Homo sapiens: one gene and its partners. The protein of the gene in region 2 purifies or fractionates together with the protein of the main gene of each other region. This does not show direct contact. Each region holds a gene or a part of one and is shown on either strand. Other genes may lie near its edges.

Region 1 (2,261 bases), on a different chromosome or scaffold from region 2:
ATCCCTGGCGTCTCAGGAGCAAAAACACTCAGTACCTGCGGGGGCTCCTCCCTAGACTTGCTGCCCATGGGACCAGACCTTCACTCTGTCACTGGAAACCTGGCCCAGCTCTCACCTGCCCGGATCAGGGCCTCTGTGCTGGGACGTGGGTGACTAGCCCTTTCCCCACCAGGAACTTTGCTGCCTTGGAAGTGCTGCGGGAGGAGGAATTTTCCCCACTGAAGAACGCAGAGCCAGCCGACAGGGACAGTCCCCGCACCGCTCGCCAGGCCCTGCTCACCCAGCACTACCGGTGGGCTCTGCGGGCCGGGGCCCGCTTCCTGGATGCCCATGGGGCCTGGCTCCCAGAGCTGCCCAGGTGAGTGTGGCCCTGGGGTAGCTACAGCCAGAAGGGGAGGGCTGTCAGGACCCAATCTTCAGCTCCAGAGCCCTGTTGGCTCTGCGACAGCCATGCTGGGGAGGGGTCTTCCTTCCCGGCACCACCGCAGGTGCAGGTAGCCTTGTGCCCAGCCAGCTCCAGGTCACACGGTGACTGTCGGCACAGCCTCCTGGCCCGACCCTTCAAGTTGTGCTCAGTGCACTGAGGGAGGCAGGGGCTCCCCAACTCCCTCCCCAACTTATCCACAAGGTTTTGGTTTGTTTACAAAGGCATACTTAGATTTGGCTTTTATTTATTTATTTTTATTTTTATTTACTTTTTTGAGATGGAGTCTCGCTCTGTCGCCCAGGCTGTAGTGCAGTGGTGGGATCTCGGCTCGCTGCAAGCTCCACCCTCCCCCGGTTTCCGCCATTCTCCTGCCTCAGCCTCCTGAGTAGCTGGGACTACAGGCGCCCGCCACCACGCCCGGCTCATTTTTTTGTATTTTTTTTTTTTTTTAGTAGAGACAGGGTTTCACCGTGTTAGCCAGGATGGTCTCAAACTCCTGACCTGTGATCTGCCCGCCTCGGCCTCGCAAAGTGCTGGGATTACAGGCGTGAGCCACCTCACCCGGCTATTTTTTTATTTTTATTTTTCTTATTTGTATACATTTGTGGGGTGTGTGTGCAACTTTGGTCAGTCAGGTCAGGGCTTTTAGGGGATCCATCACCCAACCAACGTTGTTCCCATTTATTCACAGGCTTTGAAACTGAGCCCCGGGCATGAATTTAGAAAGTAGCAGGACAGTTTGATTTCAGGGCTGGGAAAGAAAAGGACGTTTGGCTTCCATCTCCCTGATTTTCTAGGGCCACCCCTAAATCTAGCTGCCTAGGCTCTGCGTGGGAGGCCTGTGGGGGTGCTTTCTACCCCAAATCAGGTCCTGTCACTTGGCAGTGGGATGTGTGCTCAGGGTTTGGGGTGTCCAGAGGAAGATGAGCTTGCTGAGACAGGAGCTGTGGGGAGCCAGGTGTGTAGAGCTCAGTCTCCTATCGGGACTGGGGGTGCTGGGGGAGGGCTCTGGGCAGGTGCTGCAAGGAGATATTGACAAGTGGACTTTCCCTAGCTTGCCCCCAAATGGAGACCCTCCGGCCATCTGTGAGATATCGCCCTTGGTGTCTTACTCTGGAGAGGTGAGAGCTGCCCATCCCTATCTGGGGCTTTTCTGGTGTCAGGTTTGGAATACCATCTGGGGAGAGGTGGCTGCTCGGGTGGAGACGGCACAGCTCTACCTCGGTTAACCAATGGGGTCGGTGGTTTAAATTTGCAGAAGACTTTCCAAGATATGGGTTGGGGTGGGGTGAGGCATCCAGAGGCCTTTGCAGGTCCTGGGAGGGCATGGGGATGAGACAGCCCAGGTCTGAGCCCAGTGTGGGGCCAGTCAGGCCTTGGTGGGGGCCTTGCGGAGGGAGGACACCGGCCTCTGCTACCTCCCTGACCTCGGCTGCCCTTGCCCCTTTCTCTGGTCAGGTCAGACCTGTGCGTGACAGGAGGGTCCCCTGCTGGCCTAGGGTCTTGAGTGTGGTCTTGGGTGGCCTTGCAGTGTGTGTCTGCTCCTGGCCCTGGAAGCCTTTCTGTCCCCACCCCTCCCTGACTCCAGGCAGACCTGGGATCGCACCTGGGGACTGTGGCTCTTGGTGTGGCCAGAGGGGCTGTGACCCGCCAAAAGGTGGGTACTTGGCCATTGTCCCCTGCTCGTCTCCAGGGTTTAGAAGTGTACCTGCAAGGCCGGGAGTTCCAGTCCCCGCTCATCCTGGATGAAGACCAGGCCAGGGAGCCGCAGCTGCAGGAGTCCTGACCCGCCCAGACTGTCCCCAGACTCCCCCGAGACCTGCCAGCCCCGGCA
Region 2 (2,561 bases):
GAGAATCATGTGAGCCCAGGAGGTGGAGGTTGCAGTGAGCTGAGATCGTGCCACTGCACTGCAGCCTGGGCGACAGAGAGAGACTCCATCTCAAAAAATAAAAACTAAATTATCAGGCCCAGAGAGGCAATAGAATGAAATCATAGTCAGGTCACTCTCTCCCAAGCTACATAATTACCTCTTGAAGCCAAGTATCTATCAAATGCCATATACCCTGTAGTTCAACAGCATATAGCCAATCACTAACCAAGGTTAGTTCTGTAAGCCAATGAGAATTCCTGATAAACAACTTTTGTAATCACCCCTTCACCTTGTGTCAGTAGAGGGTATAAGAGCAGCTGATCTATCCTTTTTTCTTTAAGAAGTGTTCTCTGGAGCACTCTCCAGGGCAACCTGGAAGTGTGTCCCGAGCTGCAGTCCCCAACCTTGGCCCACCTAAACATTCTATATTAATTTTGCCTCAGCTTCTTCCTTTTAAGGTGAATAATCATCACAAAACAGACATTTGAAATATAAGCTTTATTTTAAATTTAAAGAAGTATTGAAAATAAACATTTTTTACAAATTATAATCAAGCACTCAAAACAATTTAGGAATGTTAAACACTAATTCTTAATTCAAAATAATGACATCCATAGAATACAACCCTGGTGTTGGCCAATATGAAGTTTACTTAATATTAGTATTTTATATACACTTAACCATTAATCCTTCCTAAAATTCAATAACAATGATTTCACTTTATAAGATGAAGCCTTTTATGCAATACCCAGAGATAACTTTTTCAAATATGAAACACTTATACCAGTGAGGAAATTATAAAAACATATATCAATTATACTGAAGGACTTGATTTAGAGGCTGTCTGTATATAGATGCATTTCACCTTAGGAAGTACACATGCACATCAAAACACTTCAACTGAATATAGATGCCATTACATTATTTAGTTACGTTACAAAGCAAACGGCAGGTTCATAAACGTTGTTCTATTATGTATCAACTGAAAAAAATATATTCAAAAAAAAAGTTTTTGAAGACTCATGGGAGTGGAATGTGCCCACATTAGGAATAAAGCTTTTACAGGACCACCTGTCTCCAGCTGGCTCCCAGGGACCACTGAAAACAGCTGGCTACCCTCAGAAAGACAAGATGGTCTTGTTAATAATTTCAATGGACTCTCGAAGCTCATCCTCCTTGATCACCAGCGGAGGCGCAAACCTGATAATGTCGCCATGGGTTGGCTTGGCCAGAAGTCCATTATCTCGAAGTCGTAGACACACCTTCCAAGCATCCCAATCTAAAGAAAAATAGTAAAACGTACATGCTCAAAGATAAACGTTTAAACATCCCTTGCCGTATGTATGGGCAAAGTGCAGCCTGGCAAAACAAAATTAACAGAACTTGCTCAACTAAGGGAAGCTTGGGCTGGGAGCGGTGGCTTATGCCTGTAATCCCAGCACTTTGGGAGGCCGAGGTGGGTGGATCACGAGGTCAAGAGATTGAAACCATCCTGGCCAACATTATGAAACCCGTCTCTACTAAAAATACAAAAATTAGCTGGGCATCATGGTGCGCACCTGTAGTCCCAGCTACTCGGGAGACTGAGGCAGGAGAATCGCTTGAACCAGGAGGCGGAGGCTGCAGTGAGCGGAGATCGCGCCACTGCACTCCAGCCTGGTGACAGAGCAAGACACCGTCTCAAAAAAAAAAGAAAGGGAAGCTTGGAGCTGCAAGCTTGCTTTGTTTTTACTCCTAAAAATGAAGTTACTCTTCACTTTTCAGCAAGCACATAACTAGGTTTGAATGATATGATTAGACATATCATAGTTTTTCATAAATGAAAAAGACCAAGCCAAAAAAAAAAAAAAAAATGTGCTAAGGCTGCTGTATTAATCACACAAGGAACTAATGCAAAAGAACTTGGGTATAGGCTGGATGCAGTGGCTCACACCTGTAATCCCAGCACTTTGGGAGGCCGAGGTGGGCAGATCATGAGGTCAAGAGATCGAGACCATCCTGGCCAACATGGTGAAACCCCATCTCTAATAAAAATACAAAAATTAGCCTGTCGTGGTGTGGCACATGCCTGTAGTCCCAGCTACTCAGGAGGCTGAGGCAGGAGAATCGCTTGAACCCAGGAAGTGGAGGTCGCAGTGAGCCAAGATCATGCCACTGTACTCCAGCCTGGCGACAGACACTCCAGCCCAACAGAGCAAGGCACTGTCTCAAAAAATAAAATAAATAAAATAAATAAAATTCTAAAAAAGAAAAAAAAGAACTTGGGTATGATACAGATGATTAACTGACATAAAATGGGCAATACTCAAAACCCAGTGAACACTACACATTCCAAAAAGGGACTCGCTTCCTGAGCTCAACATATTATAGCAGCGATTCTCAACCTGGCTGCACATCAGAATCACCTTAAAGGCTATTGCTAATGCCTGTGCCCCGTCCCAGATCCGTCAAATCAGAATCCCTGGGGTAAGGCCAGGCTTTGACTCATTTTTTTAAGAAGCTCCCCAGGTGATTCTTTTTTTTTTTTTTTTTTTTTTTTT
Region 3 (3,500 bases), on a different chromosome or scaffold from region 2:
AGGCTGGAGTGCCGTGGTGTGATCTCGGCTCACTGCAAGCTCTGCCTCCCGGGTTCACACCATTCTCCTGCCTCAGCCTCCCGAGTAGCTGGGATTACAAGCGCCCGCCACCACGCCGCGCTAATTTTTTGTACTTTTAGTAGAGATGGGGTTTCACCGTGTTAGTCAGGATGGTCTCGATCTCCTGACCTCGTGATCCACCCATCTCGGCCTCCCAAAATGCTGGGATTACAGGCATGAGCCACCGTACCCGGCCATCTTGTTGAATTTTTTATTTTTCTTACAAATATGAGTTGATTCTCTTGGGTTGTGCAACAATACATCATCCACAAATAAGACATAAAGTTCAGGGGCTCTATCTTTAGGCTATGTATCCCTTGGGATACTACCATTACCCCCACTAAAGGAGAGCCTGTCTCTTACATCTTCAAAAAGCACTTCCCTTCTTTCCATGGCGCTCAGGGGCATCCAGTCCTCCTGAGCCCTGTGGGGAGCTGGCTGAGAGGGAGGGGCCAGGCCTGCCACTGCCGCTGCTACTCACATGGCAGAAGATCATGGCTTGAGCAATGGTGATGGCCCCGTAGAGGTTACACAAGGCCTGGAACTTCTCGTCTCTGCTGCTGCACAGGACATAGTACTGCTTGATGGTATCCAGGGTCTCTTCCTCACGCTTCAGTTTGATAACATTTGGGTCTGGGACCACTTTCTGGGCAAACTTCCACACAGAGTCTTCAAAGGTGGCGGAGAAAAGCAGCATCTGGCAGTTCCTGGGCAGCATCCTGCAAGGGAAGGCCCGGGTAGATGGCCCCAGGTGGCCCTGGGAAGCAACGGAAGCACAGCCTCCCCAGCTGGGAGGGTCTAGATGCCCAGGAAGGCTGATGGGGGAGGAGCATCTTGGGGAGGAGGAGCAGCAGGCCTGGGATGGGGACAAGGGTTGGGGAAGAGTCCCTAGGTCTCCTTTCTCAACCCAGGTTGGGAGGGACTGTGATCAGCGCTGACATGGAAATGGCCCGTCAAACAAATGCTGCTGAGAGTACGAGAGCCAAGACCCAGGCAGAAGCCAGAGGAGGCGTCTGAAGTGAAGGGAGAAGACACTGCAGATGGGGAGTCTGAGGAGTCCCCCACCCTCGAGATCCCTACCTCTGGATGCGGATGCTCTGATCTTGGTGGCCCTGAGTGGCTATCATGACATCAGCCTCATCCAGAACAAACACCTTGATTTTCTTGGGATCAATGAACTTGAGCTTGGAGCACCAGTCCAGCACGGTCCCAGGGGTGCCAATGACAATCTGCTCACTGATCTTCTGGCCTCTTTCCACTGTGGAGACCCAGGTGATTTTCATAGGTATTTCAAAGGCAAAGCCAGCTCTGGAAATCAAAGCCCTGCCCATCCTTCTAGGACTAGGAGAACAAGTTATTTCCAGATTTCAAAACACACATGAGTGTTCCCCTCAGTCTTGGTCTCTTCTGCTGTGAAGTGGGCAGAATGACACCTATCTCAGTGCACTGTGGTCAGGATCAAATCCCACACAGCAATCCTTCAATAAGCATCAGTTCCCTTCTTCTTCCTCCTATAATCCAACATCATCCAACTCTTTTTATGTTTATTTATTTATTTATTTTGAGACAGGGTCTCACTCTGTTGCCCAGACTAGAGTGCGGTGACACAGTCATGGCTCACTGCAGCTTTGACCACACAGGTTCAAGCGATCCTCCTGCCTCAGCCTCCCAAGTAGCTGGGACTACAAGCTGGCACTTCCACGCTTGGCTATTTTTTTTTTTTTATTTTTTGTCTTACTATGTTGCCCAGGCTGGTCTCGAACCATGTGCTCAAGCAGTCCTCCCACCCTGGCCTCCCAAAGGGCTGGGATTGCAGGTGTGAGCCACTGTACCTGGTTTTGCTTACTTTTAAAGAAAGGGAGCTGACCCCAACCTTCCATCCTCAGTCCTGTTAATCCCTCTTTGGTAGCAGGTCCCAGAACTCTGGACGCTAAATTCAAAACTCTACCTTCTGAGCGAAGAACTCTAGATATTAAGAACTCTGTGAGCCATGCGTGGATTTTTTTTTTTAATCAACCGAAAATCTTATTTTAAGACTGAAAAAGACTGTTAACAAATTAGCAGGTATTCAAATAGATTCAAATAGAGCAACACAGTTAGGCTCCAGGGTCAGACTGAATTAGAAAGTTGAATACGGTCATCGCATCTTCAAAATTCAAACGCCCAACCCCCTACCCTGCTCACTGTTCAGTTGTCGCCTGCCGTACTCACATTTATTGCCTCGAACGGCATAGGCAAGCTTCAGTTCTGGGTAAAATTTGCCCATCTGCTCAATCACTTTTCCTGTTTGAAGCGCCAGCTCATATGTTGGGGAGAGGCACAGACACTGACAGAAAAATCATAAAGGATGAGTTTAGGAGAGCCATTTGGTAACAGACCTGAAGGCACCCAGTATGCTGATGTTATTAGCACTTGAATAGCACAGGGAAGCATGTCCTCCCATCCAGGCCCACCTTTCAGCCATAGACTGAAGCCTGCAGCAGGTAGCCCTGGCTTGGCAGAGGCCTTTGCAAGCCATGGTCTAAGGCTGCTGCTTTCAAGCACATTCTCCCAGGTCAGGGCCTGGTGTAGGAACTTGCTCTGCCTGAGCCACAGCCTAAGGTGTCAGAAGCTTCAGACCTCTCGTTACTCCTCACCAGATGGCACTGCGCTCCCCAGGGCAGGCAACCTAGGACACCCAGCCCCGCAAGCCCTCACCTGGGGGTATCTGTCTGATGGCTCCACTCGGCTGAGCATGGCTAAGACAAAGGCAGCTGTTTTACCAGTGCCAGACTGAGACTGGGCAATCAGATTCTGTGGGCTGGATCAAGGAAGAACAGAAATGAAACTTAAATTGGTGAAACTCAGTAACATGTCAAAATGTTCTTTCTGAATGAAAGGCATATTTCCCCCTTCGTGCTTCTCTATATTACCCAGGTTTTCTCCATTGAGCACAAATTACTTTCATACATTTTTTTATACGCTGTTAAAAAGCTGCTTAAATTGTAAAATAAATGATTATTTTAAATGGGCTCACACCAAGAAATTCTCATTCTAGCCTCTAGCACAGCTAAAGGACCCCAGTTTTGCACCCCAAGGGGCACAGGGAAATCAAGTGTGCAGAGTAAGATCTGTGCCCAGACAAGACCCCAGCAATATTTTTGGCTGAGCCATGATGCATTCCCAGAATTTGGTTCCTTCTGTGTGTGCCTTTCCCCAGTTTTATGGACAAGATGCTAAGTCAGGTGGATGTTTTAGAGGGAACTTTTACATTCCATTTTATGGGACCCAGCATCATGGGAATAGGTGGCATGGTTGTCATTAAAAAAGATAAATATGGCTTACGCCTGTCATCCCAGCACTTTGGGAGGCCGAGGCAGGCGGATCACAAGATCAGGAGATCGAGACCACCCTGGCTAACACAATGAAACCCCGTCTCTACTAAAAATATAAAAAATTAG
Region 4 (3,118 bases), on a different chromosome or scaffold from region 2:
ACATAAACTTCCTAATTCCGCAAAGATACTTACAACTTTACAATTATTGGGTCATAGGACACTTCGTCAATTTGTTAAACAGAAAATGAATAGAAAATGAATACAGGGTATTTATGATACACTGTCACAATGAGATCCTATTCTAGATATTACATGTGTATGCAGAGAACATTGCAAAGGAAGCATGCTAAATGCTTATAGCAGTTATCACCAGGGGTGAGACAGTGAGTGGCTTTTACTTTATTCCTTATACATTCTGGATTGTTTGAAAATTCTAAAATGAGCATATCTTACTTTAATAAAGATTTTAAAAGGTGAGAAAAAAATAGTTAAAAAATATTTCCTAATACCTTAAAGGGTTGTAGTAGATTTAAATTACATAATTGATAAGAATGTATTTTTGTAAATTATGTAGTATTATGAAAATACAATGTAGTAAATTTTCCTAAGTCCATGATCTCCCCTCCTTACTTAGAATTAATGGGTCTGATGCCTTTAGGTATGTTTAGTTTAAGAATTTTATTTTAAAGGAATTTCTGTGGCATAACATAAGGTTTATGGTACTTTTACTAAAAGTCACTTATAATGACCAAATTATAACAATTTTTGCAATAAGCTCTCATTAAATTTTCCTAAAAGTAGAAAAAGTACACATTATATACCATTTTGCACTTAATTACTTCTTTAAAATCTCAAAATAATTCAGTGTAAAATGTTAGTTTCAAAGACAATTTATGGGAAATTACAAAGCAACTACAAAGTTCTTCATAATAAATCCAAGATAAAAGTAACTTTTTACAGGTTGAAAGTTTTTCAAAATGCCTAAGTGGATTATAAATACAGTTTGGCCATCTGATGAATTTAGAGGCACTTTAAAAGGTGTCTAGTTGAACTACTACAGATAGGACATGTTTGAGGAAATTTAATCTTTAAGTCTAATACCAGTGTTCATTTCTTCCTGCCAAAACAAGAAATTTATTGGAAAAATCCATGAGCAGCATGATTAGTTTGATTTCTTTCTCTTTTTTTAGAGACAGGGTCTTGTTCTGCCATGCAGGCCAGAGTGCATGCAGGCCAGAGTGCAGTGGTGTGATCGTAGCTTACTGCAGCCTTGAATTCCTGGGTTCAAGTGATCCTCCCTCCTCTGCCTCCCAAAGTGCTGGGATTATAGGTGTGAGCCACCATGCCCAACCTAGTTTAATTTCTTCATAAAGATTCTTTTATAAGTTGTGCTAATACCTGGAAGGCCTAAAACAGAAAAAAAAAATTAGAATTAATTAAATTAGGATACTATATTGGAAAACTCTGTAATAACTTTAAAAATCCAAACAAAGAGTATCTGTCTAAGGTTGAGAGAAGGCATTGAAAAGTCAAGTTTAACATCAACTTTATCTGTGCAGGATGCCATCAATTTCTATTAAAATATGAAGACTGAAGTACATCAGATTTTCAGGATTTTGTTGTTGTTGTTGTTCTCGTGGCCTTCAAGATCATTTTCCATTTTATCCATAACATGGATTATTTTAGATTTTACATAATCTCTCACCTGCATTTTATATAGATTCAATTGCCCAACTCCACTAATACATTAAAACAGAGAGACCTTATGAAAAACACATTTAATGACATGAGAAAGCAAGTAAATAAAGAACATGCCAAAAATGTCCCTTTCCAAGGATAAATATAAACTCTTCTCAAGGTTAATGGCACTGTTCAATTTATAGCTCTTCTGTTTGATTTCCACATACACAGCTTATTTTGGTTAAAGCTAGATTGTGATTCAGAATATTATTCTATTTGACCCTTGCTGATACTTTTTTCTTCAGAGAAAGTGACAGCCATCATGAATTTGTACTTCTGGCTCATGTTAATTCAATAAAGGAAGGAAAGAAGTTTTCCTCATAACATGACAATTTACGCAGCTCAGTAGGTTGTGATACATTATTCATGCAGACAATAAATTTTAACTCCAATTTAGTCTCATTTCTATAGAAGTCTAGCAACAAAGTAAAATGGGTCTTTTAATGATAGTTCATGACTGGTCAACAAATATCTGAATTTTAGAAACCCAAACAGATATTAAGTAATATTCTAATTCACAAAGTATACACGTGCATTAAAAAAACAGAACTGCTAGCTAGTGTTACTCTGAGGAGAATACTACACTCACCACATCCATCTGTTCTGGAGAAGCTGAAGAGAAGGATGCTCTCAAGTAAGGGCTAGGAGCTGAGCTATCGACGTAGAAAGCATTTCCAGGGAGCATTAATACCTAAGAGAGTTTGTGGAAGATAAGTAATGTACCACTAAAGAAAAACTCAAAGATAATATAGTTAAGCCTAATCTCAGAGTAGGGAAGGATGTTTTAAGTTTAAAAGCAGTTAAAGAAATCACAAGAAAAAATACTAATTTATATAAAAATTGCGTATGTCATACAATGAACAAAACTAAACACATAGAAACTGAAAAAATGTTCAGAATCAATATGGCAAATGCTATCTCTTCTCAAAACATCAGGAATACACGAAAACTGAGAACACTCAAATTTCAGCTTTAATGTAGAAAGGACAGCTTCCTAAAGAAAGATAAATGGTAATAAATACAAACAAATGTTTAATCTAACTAGAAAAGTAATTTTTAAGTTAATAAGTCTGAAAGTTACTTTTAAGCTGGGGCCTGAAAGATAAATTACATCAGGCAAAAAGCAGGGAGCAGTATTTGAGGGCAAAGATACACAGAGTAAAGGCCCTGAGATGGGAAGAAAATTGCTGCATTCAAAGAACTGAAAGGAGGTAAAAAATGTAATGTATAAAATGAAGAAATAAAAGTATTAAATAAGCGTGTCAAGATGGGGTGGTCGGAACAGCTGCTGTTCTTGATGGCCACACAGGCAGACAGCTCACTGACTGTAAGCTCCATTTCCTCTTCTTCCTGGGCATCACATGTACCCTATTCCCCGGCCTCTTTCTAGCTGTGTGTGACCATGAGAGCGAATCCTAATCAATGGATGTGAGTAGAAGCCAGGTAAGAGATGTCTAAGGTTGGCCCATACAAATCATCCCATGTGTGATCTGCCATGCTCTTTCCATTTTGTAGCCATCTTGGAATCTGTGTGTTG

The links.
Region 1: the proteins of OAT (region 2) and UAP1L1 fractionate together in Homo sapiens (co-fractionation; one large-scale study listed by BioGRID). This does not show direct contact.
Region 3: the proteins of OAT (region 2) and DDX19A fractionate together in Homo sapiens (co-fractionation; one large-scale study listed by BioGRID). This does not show direct contact.
Region 4: the proteins of OAT (region 2) and AADAT fractionate together in Homo sapiens (co-fractionation; one large-scale study listed by BioGRID). This does not show direct contact.

The regions. Positions count from the first base shown.
Region 1 is NC_000009.12:137,080,517-137,082,777, forward strand, and holds part of UAP1L1 (UDP-N-acetylhexosamine pyrophosphorylase-like protein 1), read left to right. Parts: intron 1-172; coding exon 173-358; intron 359-1,481; coding exon 1,482-1,548; coding exon of another isoform or gene 1,549-1,656; exon of another isoform or gene 1,657-2,114; intron 2,115-2,120; coding exon 2,121-2,213; 3' UTR 2,214-2,261.
Region 2 is NC_000010.11:124,396,803-124,399,363, forward strand, and holds the end of OAT (ornithine aminotransferase, mitochondrial isoform 1 precursor), read right to left. Parts: intron 1,301-2,561; coding exon 1,140-1,300; 3' UTR 501-1,139; downstream 1-500. UniProt on the Homo sapiens protein: Catalyzes the reversible interconversion of L-ornithine and 2-oxoglutarate to L-glutamate semialdehyde and L-glutamate.
Region 3 is NC_000016.10:70,363,903-70,367,402, reverse strand, and holds part of DDX19A (ATP-dependent RNA helicase DDX19A), read right to left. Parts: intron 2,861-3,500; coding exon 2,758-2,860; intron 2,387-2,757; coding exon 2,272-2,386; intron 1,471-2,271; exon of another isoform or gene 1,392-1,470; coding exon of another isoform or gene 1,319-1,391; coding exon 1,141-1,318; intron 780-1,140; coding exon 542-779; intron 1-541. UniProt on the Homo sapiens protein: ATP-dependent RNA helicase involved in mRNA export from the nucleus.
Region 4 is NC_000004.12:170,059,722-170,062,839, forward strand, and holds the end of AADAT (kynurenine/alpha-aminoadipate aminotransferase, mitochondrial), read right to left. Parts: exon of another isoform or gene 3,009-3,118; intron 2,273-3,008; coding exon 2,171-2,272; intron 1,249-2,170; coding exon 1,207-1,248; 3' UTR 501-1,206; downstream 1-500. UniProt on the Homo sapiens protein: Transaminase with broad substrate specificity. Has transaminase activity towards aminoadipate, kynurenine, methionine and glutamate. Shows activity also towards tryptophan, aspartate and hydroxykynurenine.